2 separate regions of the Homo sapiens genome follow, and region 1 is linked to region 2. Evidence: fine-mapped expression QTL. A gene starts in region 2. The other region holds a variant in brackets. All regions are shown on one strand. Distances are from middle to middle.

Region 1 (5,388 bases), 59 kb before region 2:
AAAAAGGGAAGCCTATGTCCAACACTTAAATAACTTTCAATGTCAAGTCCTTATCAGGCAGCAGCCTGCCTCAACTATGAGCTGTGTAGATATGAATAGCCCTGCTTTCTAGGGGGATCTGAACAGAATCCCAACCTGTGTTGCTCCTTGAGCTCTTTCAGCCATGACATAAGCAGAAAAAAAATTAATCATGAAGGAGCACTTTGATGCAGTAGCTTATATCCCCTGGAGTTTGTTTTACACATAGATAAGCGTTGTGAAAGGTTAAGTAGTCTGTCTAAAGTTACTTCCTGCTAATAATAATAATGACCACTACTTATTGAGCCCTTAGTAAGCTGAACACTTTCATGTATTAACTCATTTAATTCTCACAACAATTATACAAGGTAAGAAATATTATTAGCATCTCCATCTTAAAGATGAGGATGCTAATGCACAGAGAAGCATTTGCCCACCTCAAGAAGCCAGGAAGTGGGGGAGCTGGAGTGACCTGTCTGCAGACTCCACACTCTCCAGCACCACAGCAAACTGCCTCCCAAGCCACAGAGGTAGAATCACACAGCATCTCCCAGCTATGAGCACCCTGGTCAGGCAGGAGACAGGGGAGGATGTGATCACTGATGGTTATCATGAAATACTTCTCAGGGAAAATTAAGTAAATAAAATGAGCTTCATTAAGGACTTAAGGCCCCACAGGTATATCCTGGAATAACTAAAACTAAGGAGTATGAAGTGTTTTATACAAGAAATTAACAGGAAAGTAAGAGGTGGATAAGCAAAGGAAGAGAGAGCCCAACAAATCAGCAAGAAGCTGAGACTGGGATAAAAATACCACTATTAACAATTCTCTAGCAGTGGAAATGGCTAAGGGGCTTTAAAGAACAAGGACATCTAATTATTCATCTAGATATCACTAGTAATGTTTGCCTAATATTTCTACAATTTCCACTTCTGAGCACATGGTTGACTTGTACTTCCTGAACCCCCATAATTGAGTTGGGTTATATGATGAGTTCTCCCTAAAAAGCTGAAAGAAGTGACATGACTCGTGTCACTTCCATCAAATACATTTAATTGTCTCCAGAGCTCTCTTCCCCTCTGCCATGGTGATACAAAGCATTTGAGATGGTGGCTACTTAAGCCTGGTTCCCTGAGTGTCTGTGTGGAGCAGAGCCCCCTGCTGACCTGTGGTGATGCACGGCATAAACTATATTTGTTGTTGATGTTTTTCTAATTTTATTATGGAAGTTTTCAAACATTCAGAAATTAACAGAATTTTACAGTGAATTTTTCTGTACCCACCATCTAGATCCTACAATTAACATTTTCCTATATTTGTTTTATCACACATCTGTACATTCCTCTATCCACCCATCAATTAATTTTACCTATTGGATACATTTCAATAAGTTGCAGACATTAGTACATCTCAGCCTAACCACTTCAGTATGCATATCACTTAGTAGAGCCCAATATTTGTTTGCAGGTGATTTTTTTGACAAAATATACATATAGTGAAATGCACAAATTTTATTTGCCCATTTGATGAGTTACATTTGTTGGTTTTAGCCATGGAGATTTGGGGCTGTTTGTTACTACAACATAACCAAGCCTACCCTGACTGATTCATTCAACTTCGTGTTGGGCTGCCCTGTGATGTCATCCGCAAGTTGCCCTTAAATCTACTATTCAATCTAACACACACATGCTGGAGTTGGTGGGCTGTGGTAAGAGGATGGTCAGGGAGGTTTCCAATATAGTGATGTGGTAACAAAATGAGACAGTAAACAGAGGAGTCAAAATGTAGAGTAGAGATTAAGAACGCTAAATAAGGTGACCTTGGAGGCAAAGGCAATTTGGATAAATGCAAGCACAATCCCCTCACTTTTACCAAAACTACCAGAAAATATTAAAAAGAGACAACATAGTCATCCCCCTGTATGCTGGAATGAGGGTTTGAGTCTATTGACTTGCCTTTATTGACAGAGTTCATTATTCCTTCCTCCTTCTAAACCTTCTTCATTTGGCCTCCAGAACCACCCTCTCTCCTGATTCCCCTTCTGCCTTCCTGGTTGGTCACCCTCATTCTTGAGTTTATCTTCATCCCTCCCACCTCTAATAGTTGGAGTGCCCTAGAGTTCAGTCTCTGGGTCTCTTCTCTTGTCTATCCATACTAATCTCCTTGCAGATTACATTGAGTTTCATGCCTTTAAACACAATCAATATGATTTTTTTAATTTCTGAATGTATATCTCCAGCATGGATTTCTCCCCTAAATTGCAGCTTTAAGATCTGACAGTCCACTCAACATCTCTATTTATAAGTCTAATACACACCTCAAACTTAACTTGA[T/C]CATATCAGAACTTCTGATCTTCTCCCCCTAAAATTATTCCTCCTAAAGTCACCCTCATCTCAGTTCAGGACAACTTTATCCTTCCCATTGTTCAGACTAGGTCATCTTTGACTCTCTCTCTCTCTCATTCTCTCTCTCTCTTTCAATATCTATATATCTATCTCTCTTTCCCCTTATTATGTCAAGAAAATTTTTATCATTACCTTTAAAATGTATCCAGAATCTGTGATGTCTTGCCACTTTTTTCACTACTACACTGGTCTAAGCTATTGCCATCTTTTCCCTGGATCGTGTCAAAAGAGTTTCAACAGGTTTCCCTGGTTCTACCTTCAACCTCTCACAGTCTTTTCTTAACATATCAGCCAGGGTGATCCAGTTACACATAACTCAGAATAAAATCACTCTTCTGCTCACACGACAGAGTAAATGCTAAAAACCTTCACCATGTTATAAAACCCTACCTGATCTGGCCTACTGTTACCTACTCACCTCATCTTCTTTTCTCCCTATGATTCACTGCTCTCCAATCACATTGGACCCTTGTCTATCCTTGAATATACCAAGCACCCTCTTGTCTGGCTTAAGCCAAAGGAGAGTCCTATTAACCTAGCAGGAAGAGGTAGTCAGTCCCAGGCTAGCTCAGATCAATGATTTCAACAAGGATAGGGCTGATTTTCTCCTCCTAGTCTGCAACTTCGGTGCCATGGCAACAATCTCCTCTTAGGATCACAAAAGAGCTATCACAGCTCTAAGCCTGATATCCTCCCATGACTGTTCAAAGAAGAAAGGAAGGTATTAGCAAAAGGACTCTGTTCTCAAGTGCCTGCGTGTTGTCAGCAAGGCAAAACTTTTCCAAAGAGCACCAGCAAAGCTCCCATTACATATCACAAGCCAGAACATACTCCCTGGCAAAGGAGAGTGTGATTGTCTTGATGGTCACCATTCCTCCCCTGGGGCTAGCCACACTTATGGCAGCAATGAAATAGACATCTGACAGCAAGGAGGAATGGGACAACCAGCACCCTACTAGACACCATTGACAGGCCACTAGATTGAGTAAGAGGAGCCCCAAACTCCATACCTGCTCTGCCCTTGTGATGTTTATATGTAATACCCCTGCACTAAAACAGTTCCTTCATCTGCAAAATGAGGAGGTTGGGCTAGACATTGCCTTCCAGCTTGAATGTTCTCTTATTCTGTGACTTCCATGTGGTGTTGTAAAGGTCTGAGTCTTCCTATGTGCCATTCCTCATGTATGTAAACATCTCCTAAAATGATGGGAACTCTAGGATGTCTTTGATCATCTATTTTAAAAAGAGAAGAGAAATTTTAACAAGAACATTTTGTACTGCTCATTCCCCACTGGTTCTTAAGAGTAAAGAACCTTTTTCTACCATTACTGACATTTAAAGACAGCTATTCAGATTCAGTAATTAGAACTCAAAATCATTCAGCATAAAGCTATAGCTTCCCAACAGTTGTTCCACTGTGGAAGTGTGAATGACTAACTCTTATCTGTGTTGCTAACAGTAATTCCTAATCATTATATTATTACTCAGTTTTAAAGCAAGAGAATGAAAACAATGCTGCCTTTGGCATCAGGACTTCTGTCATTACTGGAACACAAAATTGATATCATGTGTTCATATTAGTAAGCTTAGGCCCTGTTCTTCAGAGGTCGTTGCTGTGAGAAGCTGAAAAACAAATTGTGAGCTCCAAAATATCTGTCGAATGCAAAAGGAACATTGTTCTACCTGTGGAAGATAAGTACAAAAATATATGAAGAGGCCCAAACCATGTGTTTTTTCTCTTGGCATGTCCACTAACTGGCACAGTGCTTACCACATGTCAGTGCTCAAAATTTATGTATTGCATGAATAATGGAAGAATGAATTAATGCTTTATTAGAAAGGCCCACATAGATGTATCTTGGAATCTGCACAGACCAACCATCCTGCTTCCTCCCTCCCTCTGCCTGTGGCAATGACTCACTTTGACTATGATGGTCCATCCACCCATCTTCTTTGATTCTCATGTTCTGCAACAGTAATTGCAAAACTGCTCAAAGGTAGTAAAACACAATTCAGTCCTCTGCCTTTGCACACAAATATTCTTTCTCCTCACCTCCAAGCAGAAATGGAATAGGCATTGGATCAGGAAAGCATCCTCCCAGCACCTTAGTTTGCACAGGCTGTGTCAGCCCTACCCCAAGCCAGTGTCTGTTAGAGCCTGTGGTTCCACGTGTAATTGGGCATATGTGATACACACACTGTAAGCATTTGCCTAGAAGCATAACATTAAGCATGCTGCTGCCTTGTAATACTTCTCAAAAACACAATTTAGCGGAAAAAAATTATTTTCAAAGGTGCATGAAATCTATCCTTTTCATCCTCCCATTTAGATACTCTAAAGTTCACTCCTGAATTAAGCTAGACCTACAGAAATTCGTGAAGTAAAACAGTCTTTTGACCTTTTCTCTCTTCTTCACTCTTCCTGTTGAAAGATTTTCACTGGCATGGGCTATGATGTGATGTTATCAGCCTGCATTGGGAAACACAAAAGAAACACCAATGTAACCCCAGGTGTCTGCAATGAGAAGGTTGAAGGTGCTGTTACTTTACACAGTGGGCTCATTCATGAGAGTCCCGAAAAGAATGTTGTTCCTGCCACAGTATCAAAATGAATTGTGCATCTCCTTAAAATGGGCTTGTTTTTAATCTCATGAACCCTAAATAGTACAACCAAACAAATGTCTCTTTTCATTTAGTTTCTAGAATACTTACAGAACAATTTGAGGCCCACCTGTTAAAAAGAATGACAGGCTGTATGCATGGTCTGCATTGCTGTTTTGGCTTCATTCCTGGCTATTAAAAAAATAGCTCCACCAGGCCAGGCACAGTGGCACATGCCTGTAATCCCAGCACTTTGGAAGGCCAAGGCAGGGTAGATCACCTGAGGTCAAGAGTTGGAGACCAGCTTGGCCAATATGGTGAAACCCCATCTCTACTAAAAAAAAAATAAGAATACAAAAAGTA
Region 2 (5,388 bases):
CAATTCTATGATGTTGGTGAAATAGATTGATTTCTTTTCCCAGTGAAGTGGGACGTTTTTAATTTGAATGACAAACTACACAAATCTGCGTTTTATTTTACAAACACTTGTCTCAGGTTTAAGGATCTCAAGTGAAAACTGAAAAACAAAACAGCATGAATAAGACCTGTTCTATGTTAAACTTAATTATTTTTAGTCAGGAGGTAAAAGACAGAAACTCCTGGCCAGGTGCGGTGGCTCATGCCTGTAATCTCAGCACTTTAGGAGGCTGAGGCGGATGGATCACCTGAGGTCAGGAGTTCGAGACCAGCGTGAATAACATGGAGAAACCCTGTCTCTACTAAAAATGCAAAATTATCTGGGTATAGTGGTGCATGCTTGTAATCCCAGCTACTTGGGAGGCTGAGGCAGGAGAATCACTTGAACCCAGAGGCGGAGGTTGCGGTAAGCCAAGTTCGCGCCATTGAACTCCAGCCTGGGCAACAAGAGCAAAACTCTGTCTCAAAACACACAAACAAACCAACAAAAAAAAGACAGCAACTCCCTTCCTGCTTCTGCCTGCTGCTGGCTCAGTCCCTATGCATAATGAATATTGAATGACAGACTCCATCCCCAGACCCCTTCCCAAGGCTAGGATGTTGCTCCTGTGATGTGCTTCCTTTTCACTGCATTCATCATAGTTTACCATAATCGTTTAATTTTCTGTCTTCCTTGTAAGCTCTGTAAGCTCCACCTAGGCGAGCCAGGTCTATCTTGTCCACCATTTTATACCCAGGATTTGGCACATGCCTACCACACACTCTTAGCACAAAAATGCTCAAAAAATAGTTGCATAATGACTATATTATGCGATTGTTTTATGGCGAATGACCATATTCTGAAGAGAGAGACCTCTGTGATGGAGAGCCCAAGCAAGAAGTTTTAAAGACTGAAACGCATTCTGAATAGATACTGGGATAGGCTCCAGCTGTGAAGAACAACAGGCTTTTCAGAAGCACGTGATTGTTACCTCATCCTCACAGGTAATTTTTGAGTAGCTAACCCAATGACATTGTTTTCTTTGCTAGAGTAACTGATGATGTGGCCTTGGAAATTCACTCTGTTAAAAATAACTCTCAACCCTAATTTTGAGAGTTGATTTGAAGTTATAATTTCTCATTCTTCTTCTAAAAATCCAGAAGAATTGGCATCAGTAGCTTTATCTATGTTTCTTAAAAGGTTATCAATCCCTAACGTTAAGCATTTCCATGCACCTGAAAGGATCGGCTTCTCTGATCTAAATGTCTTAAACACCTCGTAAATGTGGGTTTTTTTGGTTTTGAGGAAATGACTGCCAATCTTCACTACTAGCTAGAAAAAGTCACACTCTAGAAAAAAGGGAGTACCTTTCCATTACTACTACCAAAACATAGCCCCACAAATTTAAGTTACAACATAAAAGAAATAACAAATTTTGAGCACTTTCTATATATACTTCAGTTGTATCTATTTCAAAGTCACAGACCCAAAACTCACACATGTAATCAGGTAAATATATATGTATGTACATAGAGCTATAGAAATAGATACATATGTGTATATGCATATATATACTGATATATGCATAAATTTAAACTGGCATATATATTTACACTGAGATAAATGTTTGCGTGTGTGTGTGCGCTCTTACATTTCTGAATCATTCTTCAGCCTGCCTGATCATTAACAAATTAATCTAAGCACATTATTATTTGTTTGTCTTAGTTTTCCAGTCCAATCCAATGTGATTTCGAAGTCAATTCCTTCACATTCTGTTTAAACTCCCTCCCAAGTTTTCTCCCTCTCTGTTCCTCACTATGATCAGGTCTAATCTCCAGGGTCTCATGTTCTGCCCCTCCAAGTAAACAAATTAATCCAGGTTTCATGGACTCTTCCAGTTGTTCAGCTCAAATTGATTACTGTTAAGGGGAATTTGAGGGCATTGGGCCAATTTTTAAAGACAAATATGAATTTTTATGGAAATCTCCAAGTATTTTAATGTTGATAACAATTTTTTTAAAAATTAAATACTATATGCATACCCCTGTCTTCCTCCCCATCCCAAAAAAGAGATGACTATTAGCTAGCCACATTGCAATTTCTGTCCTGGACTGCTGAAGGGTCCTTGGGTATACTTAAGGAATATATAAACCTCTTTTTCAAACTGCAGTCAACCTATTATTAATGTAGTAAAGTTAATTTAAATTCATAGGAATCAGTATTTTTAGTAAGCTAAAAAGAATAATTTAGGATGGAATGAATGGAATTGAAGGAAAAAGAGTGAAAAGCAAGAATATTATTTTGAGAAATGTTATATTTATGTGTGTATGTGTACCAAGTGACACAGAAATTGTATTTCTGAGGAGAGTGGCCAAACAAGTTTGGAAATGCATATATATAATTTAGTTCTATTCAGTTTCCCAAATACAGTTGTCCCTCAGTATCCACAAGGGATTGAGTCCAGGACCCTCTATGGGTACCAATATCTTAGGATACTCAAAACCCTTATATACAATAGTGTAATATTTGCATTTATTTTACACACAACATCCTGTATACTTTAAATCATTTCTAAATGACTTATAATACCTTATACAACCTAAATGCTATGAAAGTAGTTATCACACTGTATTATTTTTAATTGTTTTTTTTTTAATGTTTTCAATGGGGGAGTTGGTTGAATCCACAGACAGGGAATTCAGGTACAGGGAGGGCCAACTCTAGTTCTGCACCCACAGAGGATAGGAACATAAAAATGCGGACTCCCTAAGGCCTCCTTCCCCTCCACGTTCTTTCTTCAGTCTTCCTCTAGGGGGAGCTCAAGTTAGCTTTAGCACAGTGTGAAGCCAGTGCAGCGTCTCGCTTCCACTTCTCCAGGGGGCGCTGCAAAGATTTTGGTCGCCAAAGATATCACGGTGCGCGCGTCTGGAAGCATTTCCGCTCTGGAGCATTTTCGTTCCGCCGGGTGCCAGCGTTCCTGTGACGCGTTTCCTGTTGGCCGAGCTGCGCACGTGCGGCCGGAAGGGAAGTAACGTCAGCCTGAGAACTGAGTAGCTGTACTGTGTGGCGCCTTATTCTAGGCACTTGTTGGGCAGAATGTCACACCTGCCGATGAAACTCCTGCGTAAGAAGATCGAGAAGCGGAACCTCAAATTGCGGCAGCGGAACCTAAAGTTTCAGGGTGAGATGCGTTGACTCGCGGTGGCTCAGAAGACCCACGCGCGAGCCCTGGCGCGTTCGGGCGGCCGGGGGCCCAGCTGCTCTGTGTGACGGAGGCAGCTTCCCCTGCAGCGTGTGTGATTGGGGAGAGTGAAAAGGCAGCTTCCACTCGGGACCCGCGCTGCTGCCCACTCGTCGCGTGGCTCCAGCGCTGCTCCTGACCTTTCTGAGCAATCAGTGTCTTCTTACAACGTTAGAGCGGGAGGACTCCCCGTTCACTTCTAGGCTTACGACTAACCCTGCCTTTTGCATTTCCACCTTAGCTTTTGGTTCCCTCACCACCTGCAAGTCGCACCTCACCTCATCCCTCATTTCCGGTTATGCTGCATGAAACGTCTCATTTCCACCCACTTTTCACATCTATTTAATTCCCGTATTTCTTTCCCCAAAAGCCCGTCTGGCTGTTTCCACAGAGCTTCTTTGATACTATTGCCTTCCTCTACCCACTTCCACACGTTCTCGTAGCACTTTCTCACCAGAGCTTCTACGTATTTGTGTCCCGCACAGTGACCTAAATGAAAAGGATTTTATCTGAATGTCACCTTTCTTACCTACCTCATTTGCAGTCCCAGTGTCCTGACAGTGGGGCCACAGATCTTGAAGTAATTGTGTTAACCTGTTGTCCAGGTTAAGATACAAACTCCCCGAGGGAAAGTTTGGAGGCACAGTGCCTTGCCCCAGTTGGTTTTCAACAGACATTAATTGAAAAAAAATTCTGCAGGAGGCAATAGGTTTGTGAATTTTAGGAATATGTTTTGAAATACTCTTGTATTTCTAATTCCTATAGAATAATACTACAGCATTACTACTTTTCAGCGCATATGTAAGTAAATTTGAACAAAAGATGGTGTTTTATCTTTTTCAGTAAACAAACAGGGAACCTTTGGTAAGGACATTCTCAGGTACAGTCATGCATCGCATAACAGGAGGGGGGATACATTGTGAGAAATGTGTCATTAGGGGCTTTTGTCGTTTTGCGAACTTTATCTAGTTACACAAACCTAAATCTACTACACACCCAGGCTACATGATATAGCCTGTTGCTCGTAAGCTGTCATCCTGTACAGCATGTTACTGTACTATACTCAGAGAATTGTAACACAATGGTAAGTGTATGTATGGCTAAATATATCTAAACATAGAAAAGGTACAGTAAAAAGACTATGACATGAGAGATTTAGAAAATGGTACCTCTGTATACAGTACTTACCATGAATGGAGTTTGCAGGACTGGAAGTTACCCTGAGCGAGTCAGTGAGCGGTGAGTGAATGTGAAGGCCTAGAACATTACTGTACACTATAGACTTTATAAACACTGTACACTTGGGCTACACTGTTGAGTTTTTTAATACTTTTATTCTTAAATTAACCTTAGCCTGCTGTAACTTTTACATTATAAACTTGTTAAATTTTAACCTTTTGACTTTAATAACACTTAGCTTACAACACAAGCACATTGTACATACAGCTGTACAAAAAGTTTCCTTTTGTCCTTATTCTATGTGATTTTTATTTTATTTTTTTTTCTTTTTAAGCTTTTTGTTAAAAATGTAAAGACACAGACACATTCAGTTTCACTGTCTTCCGCTTCCACATCTTGTCCCACTGGAAGATCTTCAGGGGCAACAATAGGCATGGAGCTGTCATCTCCTATGATAACAGTGCCTTCTAAAATACCTCTCTCCCTGAGGCTCTTTTACAGTCGACTCATTTTTTTTTAATAAGTAAAAGGAGTAAACTCTAAAATGATGATCAAAAGTATAGTAAACACATAAACAAGTAACATAGTTTATTATCACGTATTATGTATTGTACATAATTATGTGTGCTGTACTTTATACGACTGGCATTACAGTAGATTTGTTTATACTAGCATCACTACAAACATGAGTAATATGTTGCACTACGACATTGCAGTTACTGATGGCACTAGGTGATAGGAATTTTTTAGCTCCGTTATAATCTTATGGAGCCACTGTATATGTTGTCCTTAATTCACAGAAATGTCATTGTGCACGCATTACTGTATTTGCATATGATAAATATTGGAGCAAATAAGTGGTCTTATCAACTGAATTTTCAACTCACTGCAGTCTAGAAGAGTTGGGGTTGAATGTTTTGAAGTGGTATGAAAAATAGTACTTGTGTGAA

Direction of the effects. Alleles are on the strand shown, and positions count from the first base shown. SD is a standard deviation of normalised expression in the study named.
In carriers of allele C in region 1, the expression in minor salivary gland of the gene that starts at base 3,028 in region 2 tends to be lower than with T alone (small effect, 0.24 SD a copy in GTEx).

The links. PIP is the estimated chance that this variant, and not a neighbour inherited with it, causes the effect.
Region 1: its variant is the best candidate, but not a certain one, in a credible set for the expression of DDX18 in minor salivary gland (GTEx, PIP 0.50).

What each region holds. Positions count from the first base shown.
Region 1 is chr2:117,752,881-117,758,268 of GRCh38, forward strand. LOC124907878 (a long non-coding RNA gene) reads right to left here. Exons shown (of 2, transcript XR_007087210.1): 2 at 1,213-4,894. Among named protein-coding and RNA genes, the nearest start is that of DDX18, 59 kb to the right of the region's middle. The variant T/C (reference allele first, on the strand shown) is at 2,353.
Region 2 is chr2:117,811,664-117,817,051 of GRCh38, forward strand. It overlaps DDX18 (DEAD-box helicase 18), which reads left to right and starts at 3,028. Exons shown (of 14, transcript NM_006773.4): 1 at 3,028-3,199. The coding sequence starts at 3,115. RefSeq lists enhancers at 2,790-3,084, 2,812-3,349, 2,895-3,024, 3,155-3,204, 3,225-3,274 and 1 more.